Regions from separate parts of the Homo sapiens genome. Here region 1 is linked to region 2. The links come from fine-mapping of genetic effects on gene expression. A gene starts in region 2. The other region holds a variant in brackets. All regions are shown on one strand. Distances are from middle to middle. Region 1 holds the start of MIR939 (microRNA 939). Region 2 holds the start of SLC52A2 (solute carrier family 52 member 2).

Region 1 (8,206 bases), 38 kb after region 2:
AGCTCATCAAGGCCTTTGCTGAGCAGATATTTTACACCGGCTTCATCCACTCGGACCCACATCCTGGCAACGGTAGGAATTTACCCCAGGGGTGGGGGTCTCAGGGTGGGCGCAGCGCGACCTAAGAGGCTGTATCCCTAGTTCTGGTGCGGAAAGGCCCGGACGGGAAAGCGGAGCTGGTGCTGCTGGACCACGGGCTCTACCAGTTCCTGGAGGAGAAGTGAGCGCGGGTGGGTGGGCGTGGGGCAGGGCAAGCCTCTCCTGCCGCAGGGAGCTCATGGCTGCGGGCCCATCCACACCCAGGGACCGCGCAGCCCTCTGCCAGCTGTGGCGGGCCATCATCCTGCGGGACGACGCCGCCATGAGGGCGCACGCAGCCGCACTGGGGGTGCAAGGTGAGGGCGTGCGGGGATGGCTGGGGCACCACAGAAGGGAGTCGGGCGGCGCGGAACCCACTCAGAGCCCCCTCCCTCCCTCCCTCCCTCCCTCCCCAGACTACCTCCTGTTCGCCGAGATGCTCATGCAGCGCCCCGTGCGCCTGGGGCAGCTGTGGGGCTCGCACCTACTGAGCCGCGAAGAGGCGGCCTACATGGTGGACATGGCCCGCGAGCGCTTCGAGGCCGTCATGGCGGTGCTCAGGGAGCTGCCGCGGCCCATGCTGCTGGTGCTGCGCAACATCAACACCGTGCGCGCTATCAACGTGGCCCTCGGCGCCCCCGTGGACCGCTACTTCCTTATGGCTAAAAGGTCGGTGGCCCGAGGAGGCGCCCGGGCCGTGGTGGGGCTGGTGTGGGGCTGACGCGGCGCTAACGCGGGTGTGTGCAGGGCTGTCCGGGGCTGGAGCCGCCTGGCGGGCGCCACGTATCGGGGTGTCTACGGCACCAGCCTCCTGCGCCACGCCAAGGTCGTCTGGGAGATGCTCAAGTTTGAAGTGGCGCTCAGGTGAGTGGCCGCGGGGCAGGTGGGTGGCGGGGGCCTGCTCCCCACCCACCTGTGACCTGTGACCTGACCCACGCAGGCTGGAGACCTTGGCCATGCGGCTGACCGCCCTCCTGGCTCGTGCTCTGGTCCACCTGAGCCTCGTGCCCCCAGCGGAGGAGCTCTACCAGTACCTGGAGACCTAGGGTGCAGCCGCCCAGGGCCGGCGGGGCCCTTTTCACCTTGGGCTGACGGAGGTGGCGGGGCTAGAGGTGTAGACACCCCGAGCCCCGTGGGCACTCGCACTGGGGGGCTGTGACAGCAGCTGGGCCAGGAGGCCGTGTAATGACCACACACTCCTCTCAAGCAAAAAATGTTTTTCCTTGTGTTTTGTACAAAAAGGGGGTGGGAGGTAGTTCCGTGTGCTGGTGGTGACGGCATCCACGGGGCTAGAAGTGGGCGGTGACGCGGTCCGTCTCCAGCAAGTCGTCCAGGATCTGCAGGGGATGGAAGGGTGGGTGGGTGGGTGGGTGGGGATGCACACGGAGGGGCGGGGCGCGCGGGGGGCGGGGCGCGCACTCACTATGTCTGGTGTGGTGCCGATCTTCTTGGCTAGCTCGCTGCGCTCCATGGTGCTCAGGTACAGGTAGCGGTTGAGCAGCTCCCCATCCAGCACGTTGCGCACGGCATTCTGGAGGGTGCGGCGGTCCACGTGCAGCATCCTGGGGCGTACAGGCACAGGTGTCAGGGCAGGCTGGGGTGGAGGGGGTGCTGCACGGGGGCGGGGCCGGGGCTCACCGGAAGGCGCGGGGGTTGAGGCCGGCGTGGTGTGGCAGCATGGTGGTCAGCGCGTTCTGCAGCATCAGCAGCCGCCGGTAGGTCTTCTCCTGCATGGGCAGCAGCAGCCCGATGCCGCCGTCCAGGGTGGCTGGCAGGGGTAGGGTGAGGGTTTTGGTGTGAGCCAGGCCAACCCTAGGGCCCCCCACCCAGACACACCTGCTCCCCCACACTCACCAAACCACGTGATGTGCTTATTCTCCCACACGACCGACTTTTTGCTGAGCCCTTCAGTGGCCCCCCGGCACGGGGTCCTCCAGAACGTGTTCACGTGGGCACCCACGTGGAAGTCTGCCCGACGCAGCAGGCGCATGCCCCCGAAACTCTCCTTGGCTAGACCAGAAAGGCCTAGGGGTCACTGCTAGCCCAGCCCCGGCCCAGGCAGAGGGGGTGGAGGAAGCACTCACCTTCGGGCAGGTACATGTACACCATGAGGTTGCGGTCGCGGTCAGACACTGGGGAGCAGAGGCCCAGGGTCAGCCCCGGCCACCCCCAGAGCCTCAGCTCCCCAGGGCCCTGCCCACATACCCAGAAAACCCAGCTGGGCATTGTCCACCATGAAGTCCACGCTGTACACCTCCAGGGGCTTGGCATCCTGGGGGCGGGAAGGGGGCGTCAGAGGTGCCTTGGGCGGGTACCCACCCAGACACGAGCACCGCCGCCACAGGTGTACCCGCGACACCAGGCTCAGCGTCTTGCTTTCCTCCTGGTAGCGCAGCAGCGAAATGCTCTTCATGACGTCGGCTGCCAGGATGAAGTTCTTGACGCTGATCATCTGGTGTATGTAGAGCTGCGTGTCGATGAAGGCCATGCCCGTCAGCTCGCTGGCCCGCAGGCTCCACAGGAAAATCTGGGGGCGAGGGCGAGGGTGAGCGGGCGCGGACGGGGAGCCGGGTGAGGGTGAGCCGGGGGACACACGCCGGGTGGGACTGGCACACCTTCTGGCCGATGGCCGACACCAGGTGGCCATTGCAGTGGCACAGGGCGGTCACGGGCCCCTTCTGCTCCTTCTCGTAAAGGACTTTGAACTTGTTCTTGGTCAAGGGCTGGCCAGGCTCGGGCACCACCTCAATCACATCCATGATCAAGATCTGGAGGGCATGGGTATGGCTGTGGGATGGCTGTGGGGATGGCAGAGGGGCTGCCAGTTCCCGCCCCCGCTCACTGGCCCCTTACCCGCCCTCGGCACGTGACCTCCTCCCCCTGCATGAGGCAGGTCCCGGCGGCCACGTAGCCTTTGAGGCCCGACACGGTCTCCTCACTGCGCAGAGACACTGTCTTCATGCAGGTCACATGCTCCCACTCCTGCAGCTCGATCCTGTGGGGGCCAGGGGCCTCAGGATGCTGCCTGGAGGCCTTGGGCAGACCCCACCCCCGCCGGCCCAGCCTCACCTGGCATTGGGAATAGCCTCCCAGCTGACCGGGGAGATGAGCTGGATGGAGAAGGCCTCCTGCTGGGGGTGGATGTACCGCTCATCTGTGGGGACCAAGGGTGACAGTCAGAGTAGGGCTTCCCCAAGATGCGGCTGAGGATGGGAGTATGGTGTGGGCGTCACCACCTCTCTCGATGGTCTCAAACTCCTTCTCCTCGCCAGTCATGCGTGGGATGCGGGCACACGGCGTGTTGGTGCTGGTGGCCACAGCATACACCTGTGGGTTAGTGAGGGTCACACACCAGTGGCCCGGCCAGGCCCAGAAGGTCCCTGGTGGGGTGGGGGTGGGGGCAGACCTTAGACTCCACGTGGTAAGCCACATAGTGGGCCGTGCAGCGCAGCGGGATCTTCCTGACAGGCCATGGGGCATCATAGGACAGGTAGGCAGGCAGGACACTGATCCTCAGCTC[G/A]CCCTGGGGTGGGGGCACAGGGGTCAGGGGATCCAGGGCTAGCCAAGGGCAGGGGCAGGCAGGCCCAGGCCGCCAAGAGCCCTGGGATGTTGCCCTCAGCTCTGTGGGAGCAGGGGTGGGTGAGGGGCAGCTGTGTCCTGGCGAGGTCCTGGAAGGGGCTGCCACTCAGCCTCTGGGGCTCCTCCTGTCCATTTTCCCACGCTCAGCTGGGGCTAGGGGTGCTGGCCACAGGGGATGGGAAAGCTAGGCCAGGAGGGCACTGGAGGCTGCAAAGGGCAGCCCACAGACTGCCATGCTGGGGACTGAAAACCAGGCAGAGGGAGCCAGGGCTGCCCTCTTTCATGGACAGTCCTGAGTCCTCAGGCACCCAGGAAGCACTCACCGCATCCCAGGCAGGGTCTCAAGTGACCTGGTGGTGTGGTGGCTTAAATAGGGAACCAGGATGAGAAAGCCTGTGTGCCCTCCCAAAGTCACAGAGCAGCCAAGGGGCAGAGCTAGCACTCACGTCAGCTCTCCTGAGAAGTGTGGAGGCCAGGCCCTGCGAGGGCTTGCCCGGCGAGCCGGCAGAGCAGTGGTGGGGACCCCAGGGGCTGCAGCCCCAGCTCCCAACCACCCCTTTCCAGACCTTTGGAGCAACCAAGTCACAGGTTCCACCTCCTCGACCTCAACCCCATCGCCCTCTGGACACTCCTTCCTGGTCCTCAGGGTGGAGCCAATGGTCCCTTCTCCTGTCCCCTCCCCCTCAGCCCCCAGCTGGGGCAGCATCAGCCAGTGCTGCTGGGAACCGGCCGGGCCCCACCTGTCTGTTGAAGTACAGGAAGCCGCGGGGACAGTTGACATTGTGGAATGGAGCGAAAGAGTCGACCGGGCCGTCGATGGCCATGGGGTGTAGCCGCAGAGCCCCTCGGCCGGTCACCAAGAGCCAGTGAGGGGAGGGGCCGCAGATGAAGACCTGGGGGCAGGCACCGTGAGGATGCTGTGGATGAGGATGCTGCGGATGAGGCCGCGTCTCCCTTCTACCACAGACCCCTGCAAAGGCGCTGGCCTACCCCTGAGTAGCCATAAATATCCTCGAAGTAGCGGAAACGCGCCACGCGGCCCCGGGCCCCAGCCCCCTCCTCTGCGCCGCCACCTTCTGCTTTCTTCTTGGATGGCTTTGGCTTCTTCTCACGGAAGTTGATGTTGTGAGGGACCTGGGGGGGAACCATGCAGGTCCTCCAGGGGCTGCCGGTCTGAAACCCACACCTTGTACCACACCCACCCCACGCCCCAGCAGTCCAGCCACTGGCACCTTCTTAAAGCGGACTTTGAGATTGCCCTGGCCGAGCTGAGAGTCGTGGGGGAAGGCCTCGTAGATAAGCAGCTCTTGGTCCACATGCACCTGGCAGGATGAGGGGAGCCATGGGGGAACGGGCAGGGCCATGGAGAACATGGGATGGGCCATGGGAAGAGGTGGGCTGTGGGTAAGGGGCGGGGCTGAGATGGGGTGGAGCCATGTATGGGAAGGGGCGGGGCTGTGAGGGAGATGGGGTGGAGCCACGGGAAGGGGCGGGGCCGTGGGGGAGATGGGGTGGAGCCACGGGAAGGGGCGGGGCTGTGGGGGAACGGGCAGGGCCAGGGGGAAGATGGGAAGGGGAGGCCAGGCCAGGCGCACTCACCAGCAGGTAGGGCCTGCTCTGGCGGCTGCCCAGCGCCACCAGCAGCACCTCCTTGACGAGGGGCAGCTCCCCCTGGCGCGTGGCCTCCTCCCTGCGGGCCTCGCCCTGTGTAGTGGGCTGTCCAAAGGAGCTGTCCACAAGGACCCGCTGCCCCACAGGGAAGTTCTTCACCAGGAACACCAGCCGCCAGTCGGGAAGCTGGTAGATCTGCAGGGTGGGCAGCAGTCAGTGGAGGCAGGTGGGTGGAACCCGCTGGGCCACAGTGCAGGGCACCACCTACCTCCATGGTGCCATTCTCCCGCACCAGCAGGCACCAGTGGGTAGGCTCTGCCCGGAAGGGTGCAGGGTCCCGGTCAGCAGGGGGCTGGCTGCTTCTTCGGGCCTCCTCCTTGCTGGGGCTGAAGAGGGAGCCCGAATCCCCATACAGCATCTCCTCCTCGTCATCCACTGTGGGGCTGGGGGCCAGCAGAAGGTCATGGGCGGCCTGCCAGCCCCAGGGACCCAAGCCCCTACCTGCGCCCCCAGCCCCCACGCACCTAGTCTCTGAGCCCAGGCCCTCGGCCTCCGGGCCACTGCGGCCCCCGAGCTCGTCACGGGCCCCACCCAGGCGGCTCTCAGTGGTGAACATGCCGCTGAGGTCTCGGTACAGGCACAGCGTAATCACCTTGGACTGCTGCGGGGAGAGGGGTGGGCTCAGCGGCGGGCAAGGGGCAGGGACAGGAGGGCGCCGGGAATGAGGGGGCCTACATGGTGCAGCGGGGGCTTGTGCAGCGCCAGGCGGTGGTGGCGGCCACCGTAGGAGTCACTCTTCAGCAGGAACATGGTGACGTGGCCCTCGGCACTCATGATGACCACATAGGGGTCGGCCACGGCGCACTGCACGATGGGGGCGCCCAGGTCCACGGGGATGAAGTGCAGCTGATTCACTGTAGGCATGGGGCAGTCAGCATGCGCCTCCCCACCACCGTCCCCACCCACCTACCTCCTTCCAGCAGGCGGATGCCCAGGGCCCAACCACCTCCCCCCCACCGTCCCCACCCACCTACCTCCTTCCAGCAGGCAGATGCCCAGGGCCCAACCACCCCCCCCACCTACCTCCTTCCAGCAGGCGGATGCCCAGTGGTGACACTTGGACAATGTAGCGGTTGTCCCCGATGTTCCCAGCAAAGACCGTGGGGCCCTGAGTGGCGAAGCCACTGGTGTCCAGCTCCATGATCTCCTGCCCCGTCTGCAGGATCTGCGGGCGACAGCTGTGAGGGAGGCGCCCCCCGCAGGGGACCCCAGCCCCAGGTCCCAGGTCCCAGGCCCTGCCCCTCACCATGGTGGAGTCTTCCCGGCTCAGAATCAGGAATCCGTGTCTGCGGCCGTCGTCGTCTGCTTCAGGGGTGGTGCTGGGTTCCTGCTCTGTGCCCTCCCCCTTGGGATTGTCCTCCTGTCAGGGCCAAAGGGGGGCAGGCTGGAAGCCACAGTCCAGTGAAGGCAGGCACGCAGGTGCGACCTGGGCACCCCCGGCCTATGAGAAGGCAGCGCCGGTCCCATCCCAGGGCCTCCCTGCAGCAGGCTCGCACCTACCTCCTCCTTACGCACCGGGGCGATGACTGTCCACATGTCATAGCAGCCGGGAAGCTCAAAGGTTGTCACCACCTGGGGCCGGATGCTCTTCTAGAATGATGATGGGGTGGGGGTGTGATGGGGGTGTGAGCCCACCCAGGTCCCACCAGGAGGCGCCCGCCCCCTACCTGCCCACACACCTGCAGCACCGACAAAGCCCCGTTCTTCCCGTGGCCGGAGCAAACCACAATCTCCAGGTCCGGCTCGGGGCTGTTCTGAAACTGCACAGGACTCGGGGGTGAGGACTATGCCCCCCACCCCCCCTCACACTCCAGCCCCTGCCCCCAGCCCCGACCCCAACCCTGGGCACCTCTTCAGAGAGGAAGGCAGGCTCGCCCACGGCGGCATTGGCACAGGGTCCAATGTTCAGGATGCTGTCACACACCTGCGGCACAGCAAGAGTCAGGGGCCCGCTGGGGGCGCTGGCTGGGACGGGGGCCCTGCTGCCTCAATCTCACCTCAAAGGAGTAGGTGGCCAGCTGTGTTCCCGACTGGGCCTCGCTGCCGTACACTTCAATCTCGTCCACCTCATCCTGCGGCACCGACTTACCCGCAGCTGCACACAGAGAGCCCACTTGAGCGCAGCCCTGGGTCACCTGGCCCCGCTCCTGACCAGCCCTGGACCGGCCCTCACCTGACCAGCCGGCCGTCGCATCCACTCGCTTCTTCTTTGAGGGAGGCTCTTCCTGTGAGGCAGGAGGGGCACTGAGTGGCATGCCACAGCAGTGCCCACATGAAGGGTGGTGGCCCAATGGGCCCAGGAAACCCACCTTGTCGGCAGCCTCACGGACAGCACTGGCCGGGGGCTCCTGCAGCTTCTCCGTGTACTTGAGGAGGAGGGAATTGCCCAGGCGAGAACCCAGGAACAGGTACCCGGGCTCCATGGTGACCATCTGAGGGAGGGCAGGTGTGTGATGGCTGGGCCGGGTCTGGACCCAGACCCAACCCCTAGTCCCAACTCACGCTGGTGGTGAGGACGCTGGCGGCCGCCTTGTCAAAGTGGAACGCTCGGACACTGCGCATGCCGTCGGTGATGAGGGTCAGCACGTAGCTGGGGGCAGGGAGAATTCTGAGTCGGGGATGGGGACCCTGGGGGAGTGAAGGGGGCCAGGGGACCCTACAGGACTTGTGGGGGGCGGTGTGGGCAGAGTTCATGGGCGGGGGAGGGGCTCACATCTCGCCGCCCTTGAGGGAGATGACCATCTTGTCGTAGGAGATGAAGGTGGCCTGGGCGCAGTCCAGGGTGATCCGCACACCCTCCTGGGTGCCTGTGGGGTGGGTGGTCAGGCCGACTAGGCAGGCCCAAGCCGTCCCCGGGCCCCCCCCGCCCCAGCCACCC
Region 2 (8,368 bases):
CGCGCGTGTGGTTCAGCACCAGGCGGCGCCGCGGCAGCGACGAGATCACGAGCCACAGGCCCACGCCCACGCCGTACACGAGGAAGACCCAGGTCTCTTGCTTCTGCACCTGCGGGCGCCACGCGGAGAGTCTGAGCGGCGCGGGGCCGGCCCTCAGGGGAGGAGGGCGGTGGGGGTCGGGCCCAGGGGCTCACACCTCTCTCAGGGAGCTGAAGCTGACCAGGACCACGCTGATGATGAAGAGCAGCATCCCCTTCCACAGTGTGTCCAGGTAGTATTCGAGCACGAAGACTGGGGGTGGCGCGGCGCGTGAGGACGCCCCGGCCCTGCCCGCAGCCGGGGGTGGCGGTGCCAAGGCTTGGCCCGGACTAGCTGGGTCCGCGCAGGGCTCGCGGAGGCGACGTCTCGCCTGCGGCCTCTCCGTCCCCAGGAGCACCGGCCGGCCCCACCCAGGGCCCTGGCCCTGCCTCTGCCCACCTGGCTCCGCCCCATTCAGGCCTCGGGCCCGTCTCCCTCCTCCCCCGCCCCGCCCTTCCCAGCCCCGCCCCGCCCCGCCCCGCCCAGCCTCGCGCGCACCGTTTGGCTCCTGCTGCACGAATGGGTAGAAGCTATTGTTCTTGAGGCGTCTGGCCAGGTGGCGCTCCGGGCAGGTGAGTCCTAGGAACCAGAGCTGGAAGCGCCAGCCGATGGAGGTCGTGGGCAGGCTGCCGGCCCGGCCCTTAGGCATCTGAGTCAGGCAGAGGTGGTCAGCCTGGCCGCTCGTCCGCTGCCGCCGCCCACTGCCCACAGCGGCACTCCTACCTCGGTGAGCAAATTCTCCAGGGCTGCAGGCCCAGGAAGGAGCAGGAGCTCACAGGCGACTGACAGGGCAGCGAGGCCAGGGAGCGGCCCAGGGTGGACCGCGGATGGGTTCTAGAAGTTCTGGGCAGGTTCTAGAAGGGGCTGCTCTGTTGACCACCTCTTAGGGAGTCCAGGGTGAGGTCCTGCGGTAGGCATTAACTTCTTGGCCAGTCCATCCACTGGAGGCCCCCTGTATGGCCTGTTCACAGTCCCCATGTGAAGGGTGGATGGGTGGACACCCTAGGCCTGAGCTGGAGAGAAATTTGCAGGCGGCGACCACTCAGTGAGCCCCACAGCTGGGCGGGGCCCCACCCCCTCCCACCCCCCACCCACATGCAACCACAGACAAGCTCACCAGTGTCCCCGAGGACGGAACACACACACTGGACCCAGCAGTGGGCAGGCAAAGGCATGGCCACCTGCAGGCTCAAGAGCCCATGGGACCACCCTGACCCCACAACACACAGGCTCTGGGCCGGCTGTAGCCCCAGTGGCTCCATCAGGTATAACCTGTTGCCCAACCCTACCCTGAGGACCACACACACAGAACTCCTAAAAATGTTTTATTTTAACAAAATGCTCAAATATCTGAAATTGGGCAAAGGTGGAGGGTGGGCAAGCTGGCTGAGGTGTCCCAGGTCTGTGGCTGCCTAGCTGGGTGAGGGGCTGGTGAGCAGCTGCTCCAGACACCACTGGACTTCCTCCAGGCCCCGGTAGGCCCGCTTCAGACCCCGGGGAAGGCAGCGGCAGGACTCCAGGTTGAGGTAGAGCAGGCCCGGGCAGCCGCTGATCACAGAGCTGTGGGGAGGGCAGACCACAGGAAGTTGAGCTGTTGCCTCAGAAGGGCTGGGCCAGGCTAGGGAGCTGTGCCTGCTGGTGTTCGACACCTGGCTCTGCCACCCATAGCCACCAAGGCCAAGCCCAGTTCCCCTGGTGTCCTCAGGCCCACCCCACGCAGGGGCTTGGACAGTATGCATGCCCCTCTGACCCCTGGAGGTCTCAGGCCAGGCAGGACACAACTTCCAGGCCCCAGGCAGACACAGTGACAGCCACACTGGCTCCAGGGACTGGGGTAGGGGATGCTGACCTGACAGTGCTTGGTGTGACCCGGGTGCCCCTGAGGTTAAGAGAGCACAGGGCTGGGTGTGAGCCCCCAGGGGTGCTTAAGAAGGCAGCCAGGGCCTGCTCCAGGTCCTTCTCACTGAACCCCTGGCCACTCAAGTCCAGTTCTCGCAGTGTATGGCACCACTTCTGGGTCAAAAAGGGGCTGCCCTCCTTGGCTAGAGTCAGCCGGTCTGACGTGCCATACAGGCCCAGATGAAGCTGCTCCAGCTCTGCAGTGAAAGGAGTGAGCATAAGCTACAAGGTGACAAGGGCCCCCACACCTCACCCGCCCGGCCACCACCCAGGACTGCTGACCCCGACATGGCAGATCCTGAAGGCCAGCCGGCGTGATGCGCGCACAGCCACGAAGATCCAGTAAGCGCAGGTTGGGAGAGCCGTGGAGTAGGCGGCCCAGGACCTCGTTGCTCACAAAGTTGCAGGTTGAGCTCGCCAGGCAGAGCTCCTCTAGGCTAGGGAAGCCTGGTCCGGGAGCCACCCCTCGTCCCGGAGGCTTGGGCAGCCACATCAGGTTCAACAGCCGCAGCACCTGGGGGCAAGGTCCAGGCTGTAGATGGGGGAGGGTGTGACAGGTGGGAGAGGCAGGGCGCCAGGTACCTGGAGCTGAGGGCAGCCTTTCTGCAGAGCCTCGACAGGCAGCTGAAGGGGAATGCTATTACGGTTGATGCCGGTGCTCACCTCCAGGACCTGGAGCTGGGGGCAGCAGCTGCCCTGCAGAGATGGGGGGAGGGGGTAGGTCACAGGGTCAGTGGCCTGGCAGTCCCCAGCTCAGCATCTGCCTCTGCTCCCACCAATGCCAACTTACCAGCAGTGCGCCCAGGATGGCTGTCGTCTGGGAGCTGTAGGTCAGCCACAACTTGCGCATTCGGGACCCTGCCTCCTCCAAGAAGCTCACCACAGCTGTGGACTCCACCTGGGGCCCCAATACAAGAGCACCCGTCACCCCGGCCTGGGTTTTTTCAGGGCCCCTTGGGACACAGGGCTCACCATGGAGTGCTGTAGGTCCAGGCTATGGAGCTGGCAGCAGGCTTTGGCTAGCATGACCAGAGCGTCAGCAGTCACACCGTGGCAGCCGGAGAGCTTGAGGAAAGTGAGCCGAGGACAGCACTCACCTACCAGCTGCGGGGAGACAGAGGGGCAGCTGGGGTTGGGAGACGACAGGCTAAGATCCACAAGGGAAACAGACAAGTGGCTGGTGCCAACCCCACTCTACCGCCTTAGCTGTGACCTCCTTTCTGCCCATGCCAGGCCTACTTGGGTGTCCCCGCCTCTGATACCTCCCTGCTGGAGGAAACAGCAGGAAAAGAGAACCAGGCAGGCAGGCAGACATCCCCACGGAGCAGCGTTGGGCCCCCAAGGTGCCTGACCCACTTCCTAGAGTACTGAACAGTCCCAGAGTGTCACAGCTGATGTGCAGGACAGCCTGGAGCTCTCACCTTCAACACGGGGTGTACCTGAGACTTCCAGTGGATGAGGGTCAGCCTCTGGAGCTGTGAAAACCTGGGCCGACAGCGGAGGCAGAGCTGCACTAATGTTCCCACACGAGTCCTTCCCACCCAACACCTTGGTGCAGGGAGACGGAAGGAGCCTGGAGCCAGGGGTAAGGAAGAGAGGGAACCCCTCACCGATTGGGCATAAGCCACTCCAGGGAAGCAAGGAGCTTCTTCTCCGCCTTGACCCCGCCCTTGGCAGGCCGGCCGACCAGCGGGGACGACAGGGTCACGGTGTGCCAGAGCGCGGGTTGGGAAGCGGCCTCCTGCCAGCGGCGGCACACGCGCGCAGCCCTGGGAGGACAGCGTGCTGAGGGTGCCGGCCCCTCCGTAGGCGATGCCCCCCTCTCGCAGCGCAGTAGACACCCCGGCTCAAAGCCGGGCTCCTGGGACTCCAACTGGGCGCCTAAGGGGCTGCGCTCTCGGACTGAGCGGTGCGCGCTCCGATGCTTTCGCCCTCCGCCCCCGCCCGGGCCACCGCTCGGACCACGTCTGGCCCAAGCCGCTACGCTCGGCGGCGGGCCCGGCACCAGCGTTACCTGCCCAGGAAGGGCATGGGGCCGTCCGCCGCCACCAACAACCCGAAAATCTGCACCAGGATTTCCAAGGGAATGCGGTCTCCCCAGCCCGCGTCGGGCCCTTCCTCGGGCGTGGGCGTGGGTGCCGGTGCGGGTGCGGGCGCGGCCGCCGCCTCGGACCTGAGCCCGGCCTTGGGCTTGGCCGCGGCGCTGGGGCCCCGGGGCGGCTGCCGGGGAGTGCGGCGGGAAGCGCGCCGCTGTGCGCGGGGCCGGGCGGGGCCGGGTTCGGACAGCACCAGCAGCATGCTGTCGGACTGCAGCAGGTGGTACCCCGAGCCCCTCGGCGCCAGCCGGTCCCACCACCAGTCCTCGGCCGAGCGGGGCCGCGGCGCTGCCCGGGCTCTGCGTCGGACCTGCCGGGAGGCTGGGGCAGCCATGACCACCGACGGCGCTCGGGGAAGCCCCAGGGAGCGGAACGGGCGAGGCTTATAGACCGACAACCCCCCGGTTCCTCTCAACGCCCGCCCGCCCGCCGACCAGCTTCCGGGGCGGGACTTCCGGTCGTGGGCCATGCCGGGGGCGGGCCCGGAACCGCCACGGGTGAGTCGGGTCGTGGCTGCTGCCGGGTCCTGCGCGCTCCGGACTGAGGTGGCGTCCCTGGGCCGGACGGCGGTGTCCCGGCGTGGCGGGAAGCCGGCACTGGAGCGGGAGCGCACTGGGCGCGGGACCGGGAGGCGCAGGGACCGGACGGCTCCCGAGTCGCCCACCTGACGGTACCGAGAGGGCGGCGCCCCTCCGAGCAGAGCCGTCCCGGCCACTCCCCTGGGATCTGACTTGGCTCTTGCGGTCGCGGGCACCGTGAAGCCCTGGGGTGTGCGTGGCTCCTCCTGGTAGGCGCCCTTTCCCGGCGTCCGGCTTGGGGTGGTGGTGGCGTTGACTCCAGCCCCGCCTCTCCCTGGAGAGGAGGGCTCCACTCGCTCCTTCGGCCTCCTCCCCTGGGGCCGCAGCGACTCGGGCCGGCTTCCTGCTTCCCTGCCTGCCGGCGGTCCCGCTGGGTACGTTTTAGCCAATCCTCCCCATCTGCGCTCCTGCCCGGGGCTCCCCCAGTTCCCCTGGTCTCACCCTGTTCTGACTCCGGCTCTGCATCCTATCTGTTTCTCTGTTTCTTTCAAGCTAGAAGAAGTCTTCACTTCCCAGGAGAGCCAAAGCGTGTCTGGCCCTAGGTGGGAAAAGAACTGGCTGTGACCTTTGCCCTGACCTGGAAGGGCCCAGCCTTGGGCTGAATGGCAGCACCCACGCCCGCCCGTCCGGTGCTGACCCACCTGCTGGTGGCTCTCTTCGGCATGGGCTCCTGGGCTGCGGTCAATGGGATCTGGGTGGAGCTACCTGTGGTGGTCAAAGAGCTTCCAGAGGGTGAGTGGGAGGGAGGTGCAGGTGTGCCCAAGACTCCTGGGCTGCGGTCAGTGGGATCTGGGTGGAGCTACCTGTGGTGGTCAGAGAGCTTCCAGAGGGTGAGTGGGAGGAGGTGCAGGTGTGCCCAGGAAGGTGGGCTTTGGCACTCTTCCTCCCTTGGGCATCATGACCCTGACATGGCCTCCTCCCTTCCCTGCAGGTTGGAGCCTCCCCTCTTACGTCTCTGTGCTTGTGGCTCTGGGGAACCTGGGTCTGCTGGTGGTGACCCTCTGGAGGAGGCTGGCCCCAGGAAAGGACGAGCAGGTCCCCATCCGGGTGGTGCAGGTGCTGGGCATGGTGGGCACAGCCCTGCTGGCCTCTCTGTGGCACCATGTGGCCCCAGTGGCAGGACAGTTGCATTCTGTGGCCTTCTTAGCACTGGCCTTTGTGCTGGCACTGGCATGCTGTGCCTCGAATGTCACTTTCCTGCCCTTCTTGAGCCACCTGCCACCTCGCTTCTTACGGTCATTCTTCCTGGGTCAAGGCCTGAGTGCCCTGCTGCCCTGCGTGCTGGCCCTAGTGCAGGGTGTGGGCCGCCTCGAGTGCCCGCCAGCCCCCATCAACGGCACCCCTGGCCCCCCGCTCGACTTCCTTGAGCGTTTTCCCGCCAGCACCTTCTTCTGGGCACTGACTGCCCTTCTGGTCGCTTCAGCTGCTGCCTTCCAGGGTCTTCTGCTGCTGTTGCCGCCACCACCATCTGTACCCACAGGGGAGTTAGGATCAGGCCTCCAGGTGGGAGCCCCAGGAGCAGAGGAAGAGGTGGAAGAGTCCTCACCACTGCAAGAGCCACCAAGCCAGGCAGCAGGCACCACCCCTGGTCCAGACCCTAAGGCCTATCAGCTTCTATCAGCCCGCAGTGCCTGCCTGCTGGGCCTGTTGGCCGCCACCAACGCGCTGACCAATGGCGTGCTGCCTGCCGTGCAGAGCTTTTCCTGCTTACCCTACGGGCGTCTGGCCTACCACCTGGCTGTGGTGCTGGGCAGTGCTGCCAATCCCCTGGCCTGCTTCCTGGCCATGGGTGTGCTGTGCAGGTACACAAGGACCCCCAGCCCCTGTGCGGGTGGAACTCAGGGCTAGGAGCCAGGTCCTGGCGCAGTCAGCCCTGACATTCTGCTCGCTCACTGCAGGTCCTTGGCAGGGCTGGGCGGCCTCTCTCTGCTGGGCGTGTTCTGTGGGGGCTACCTGATGGCGCTGGCAGTCCTGAGCCCCTGCCCGCCCCTGGTGGGCACCTCGGCGGGGGTGGTCCTCGTGGTGAGCACAGGGGGACATGAAGTGGGGTGGGGGGGCGTTGCCCTGGAGCAGGCACATCTCACGCTCAGCTGGTGCTGTGTCCCCCTCAGGTGCTGTCGTGGGTGCTGTGTCTTGGCGTGTTCTCCTACGTGAAGGTGGCAGCCAGCTCCCTGCTGCATGGCGGGGGCCGGCCGGCATTGCTGGCAGCCGGCGTGGCCATCCAGGTGGGCTCTCTGCTCGGCGCTGTTGCTATGTTCCCCCCGACCAGCATCTATCACGTGTTCCACAGCAGAAAGGACTGTGCAGACCCCTGTGACTCCTGAGCCTGGGCAGGTGGGGACCCCGCTCCCCAACACCTGTCTTTCCCTCAATGCTGCCACCATGCCTGAGTGCCTGCAGCCCAGGAGGCCCGCACACCGGTACACTCGTGGACACCTACACACTCCATAGGAGATCCTGGCTTTCCAGGGTGGGCAAGGGCAAGGAGCAGGCTTGGAGCCAGGGACCAGTGGGGGCTGTAGGGTAAGCCCCTGAGCCTGGGACCTACATGTGGTTTGCGTAATAAAACATTTGTATTTAATGAGTTGGCATTAATTCTTTGAGCACATCTCTCTGTGTGGATGCTTCCCTGAACTAGAGCCATGGCCTGGCCTGTTTAACAGGCTGCCTCTCCCCAGGCCCTGGGCAGGTCCTTACCCACCACAGGCTGGTCTCACGGATTGTACAGTCATGCCCTCTGAGCCCAGACTACCCCACATTGCTTCTTGGAACTGCCCTGGGCTCTCTGGGCCCACACGAGCTACCAGCTTCGGTGGTCAGAGGAGTAGAGGAGCCTCTTCCCGGCAAGGCCACTGCTCCACGAGCACCTCTCAAGGGCTGAGGGTTAGTCGGATGGGGCTGCGATGTGCCGAGCCCCCTGTCCACCCTTAGCCCTGGAGTGACTGTTTGCCTGCTAGCTTCCCAGGAGTATCCTGCTAGGGATTTACACCAGGGGGTTGGTGTGCAGGCACCGGGGTACTCAGTGAGGGGGACTCAGAAGAGACAGAGTTTAAGGTTTTAGCCCATCGGGACCGTTTGGCCTGAGCATTACCCCACTCCCCTGAGCCTCCACCCTCTCAGTGACAGCTCCTCCTGCAATCAGACCCCCAAAGGCCCCAAACTGTTTCTTCAGGCAGACTTGGCTACAGCTGTCTTCTCCCTGGGCTGCTGGCACACTGCCCCTAGCCCTGAGCAGCCTGGGCCTGTATGTGTTGGCATCTGCAGGGAGCAGGACCTCAGCACTGACCATGGTCTATCCTGGGCTGGGTGGTTCTTGGGCTCCCACAAAAAGAGCTGGAGCTGCAAAGGAACTAACTGAGAGGAGCCCCTGAGCCTGGGAGCAAGGATCTGGAAGAAAGTGCTGGGAGAGACCACGCCAAGGTAGGAGCCTGGCTTTCTTCACCTCGTGGGCCGCCACCCCAGGGAGGCAGGACACCGAACTGTGATCAGTATGACGGGCCTGGCAGCAAGGCCCATTCTCCCAGGCAAGAGGCCCCACTTCTGCAGAAGGGCCCCTGCAGCTACAGGGAGCGTGCAGGCACTGGGGATGGTGGGTCTGTTCCTGCTGCCCAAGCTCTGTCTGCGACGGTTCCGCTCTGCGGAGGCCCTTTCTCATTGTCCTTGAGTTGGCCTGCACACGGGCCTTTGAAGGCCTGGTCTTCCTCCCCACTTCTGCTC

Evidence for each region. PIP is the estimated chance that this variant, and not a neighbour inherited with it, causes the effect.
Region 1: its variant is fine-mapped to the expression of SLC52A2 in caudate (GTEx, PIP 0.97).

Annotation. Positions count from the first base shown.
Region 1 is chr8:144,391,951-144,400,156 of GRCh38, forward strand. It overlaps ADCK5 (aarF domain containing kinase 5), which reads left to right. Exons shown (of 15, transcript NM_174922.5): 10 at 1-72; 11 at 142-220; 12 at 304-395; 13 at 495-747; 14 at 826-942; 15 at 1,019-1,292. The coding sequence ends at 1,124. It overlaps CPSF1 (cleavage and polyadenylation specific factor 1), which reads right to left. Exons shown (of 38, transcript NM_013291.3): 10 at 8,042-8,135; 11 at 7,831-7,918; 12 at 7,638-7,760; 13 at 7,502-7,553; 14 at 7,326-7,423; 15 at 7,178-7,252; 16 at 7,008-7,088; 17 at 6,829-6,918; 18 at 6,575-6,688; 19 at 6,352-6,493; 20 at 6,004-6,182; 21 at 5,793-5,929; 22 at 5,537-5,711; 23 at 5,257-5,463; 15 more. The coding sequence ends at 1,368. It overlaps MIR939 (microRNA 939), which reads right to left and starts at 2,280; the gene lies at 2,199-2,280. It overlaps MIR1234 (microRNA 1234), which reads right to left; the gene lies at 8,136-8,206. RefSeq lists silencers at 2,231-2,392, 3,745-3,958. The variant G/A (reference allele first, on the strand shown) is at 3,599.
Region 2 is chr8:144,354,041-144,362,408 of GRCh38, forward strand. It overlaps SLC52A2 (solute carrier family 52 member 2), which reads left to right and starts at 4,573. Exons shown (of 5, transcript NM_001363118.2): 1 at 4,573-5,025; 2 at 5,144-5,383; 3 at 5,583-6,453; 4 at 6,550-6,673; 5 at 6,763-7,232. The coding sequence starts at 5,254. The coding sequence ends at 6,975. It overlaps CATSPERQ (catsper channel auxiliary subunit theta), which reads right to left and starts at 891. Exons shown (of 6, transcript NM_001280561.2): 1 at 802-891; 2 at 577-727; 3 at 197-291; 4 at 1-109. The coding sequence starts at 727. It overlaps FBXL6 (F-box and leucine rich repeat protein 6), which reads right to left and starts at 4,432. Exons shown (of 9, transcript NM_012162.4): 1 at 3,992-4,432; 2 at 3,588-3,746; 3 at 3,399-3,462; 4 at 2,950-3,081; 5 at 2,768-2,875; 6 at 2,560-2,673; 7 at 2,260-2,491; 8 at 1,928-2,174; 9 at 1,391-1,638. The coding sequence starts at 4,407. The coding sequence ends at 1,491. RefSeq lists silencers at 332-441, 4,155-4,374, 4,395-4,834 and enhancers at 2,288-2,824, 6,046-6,581.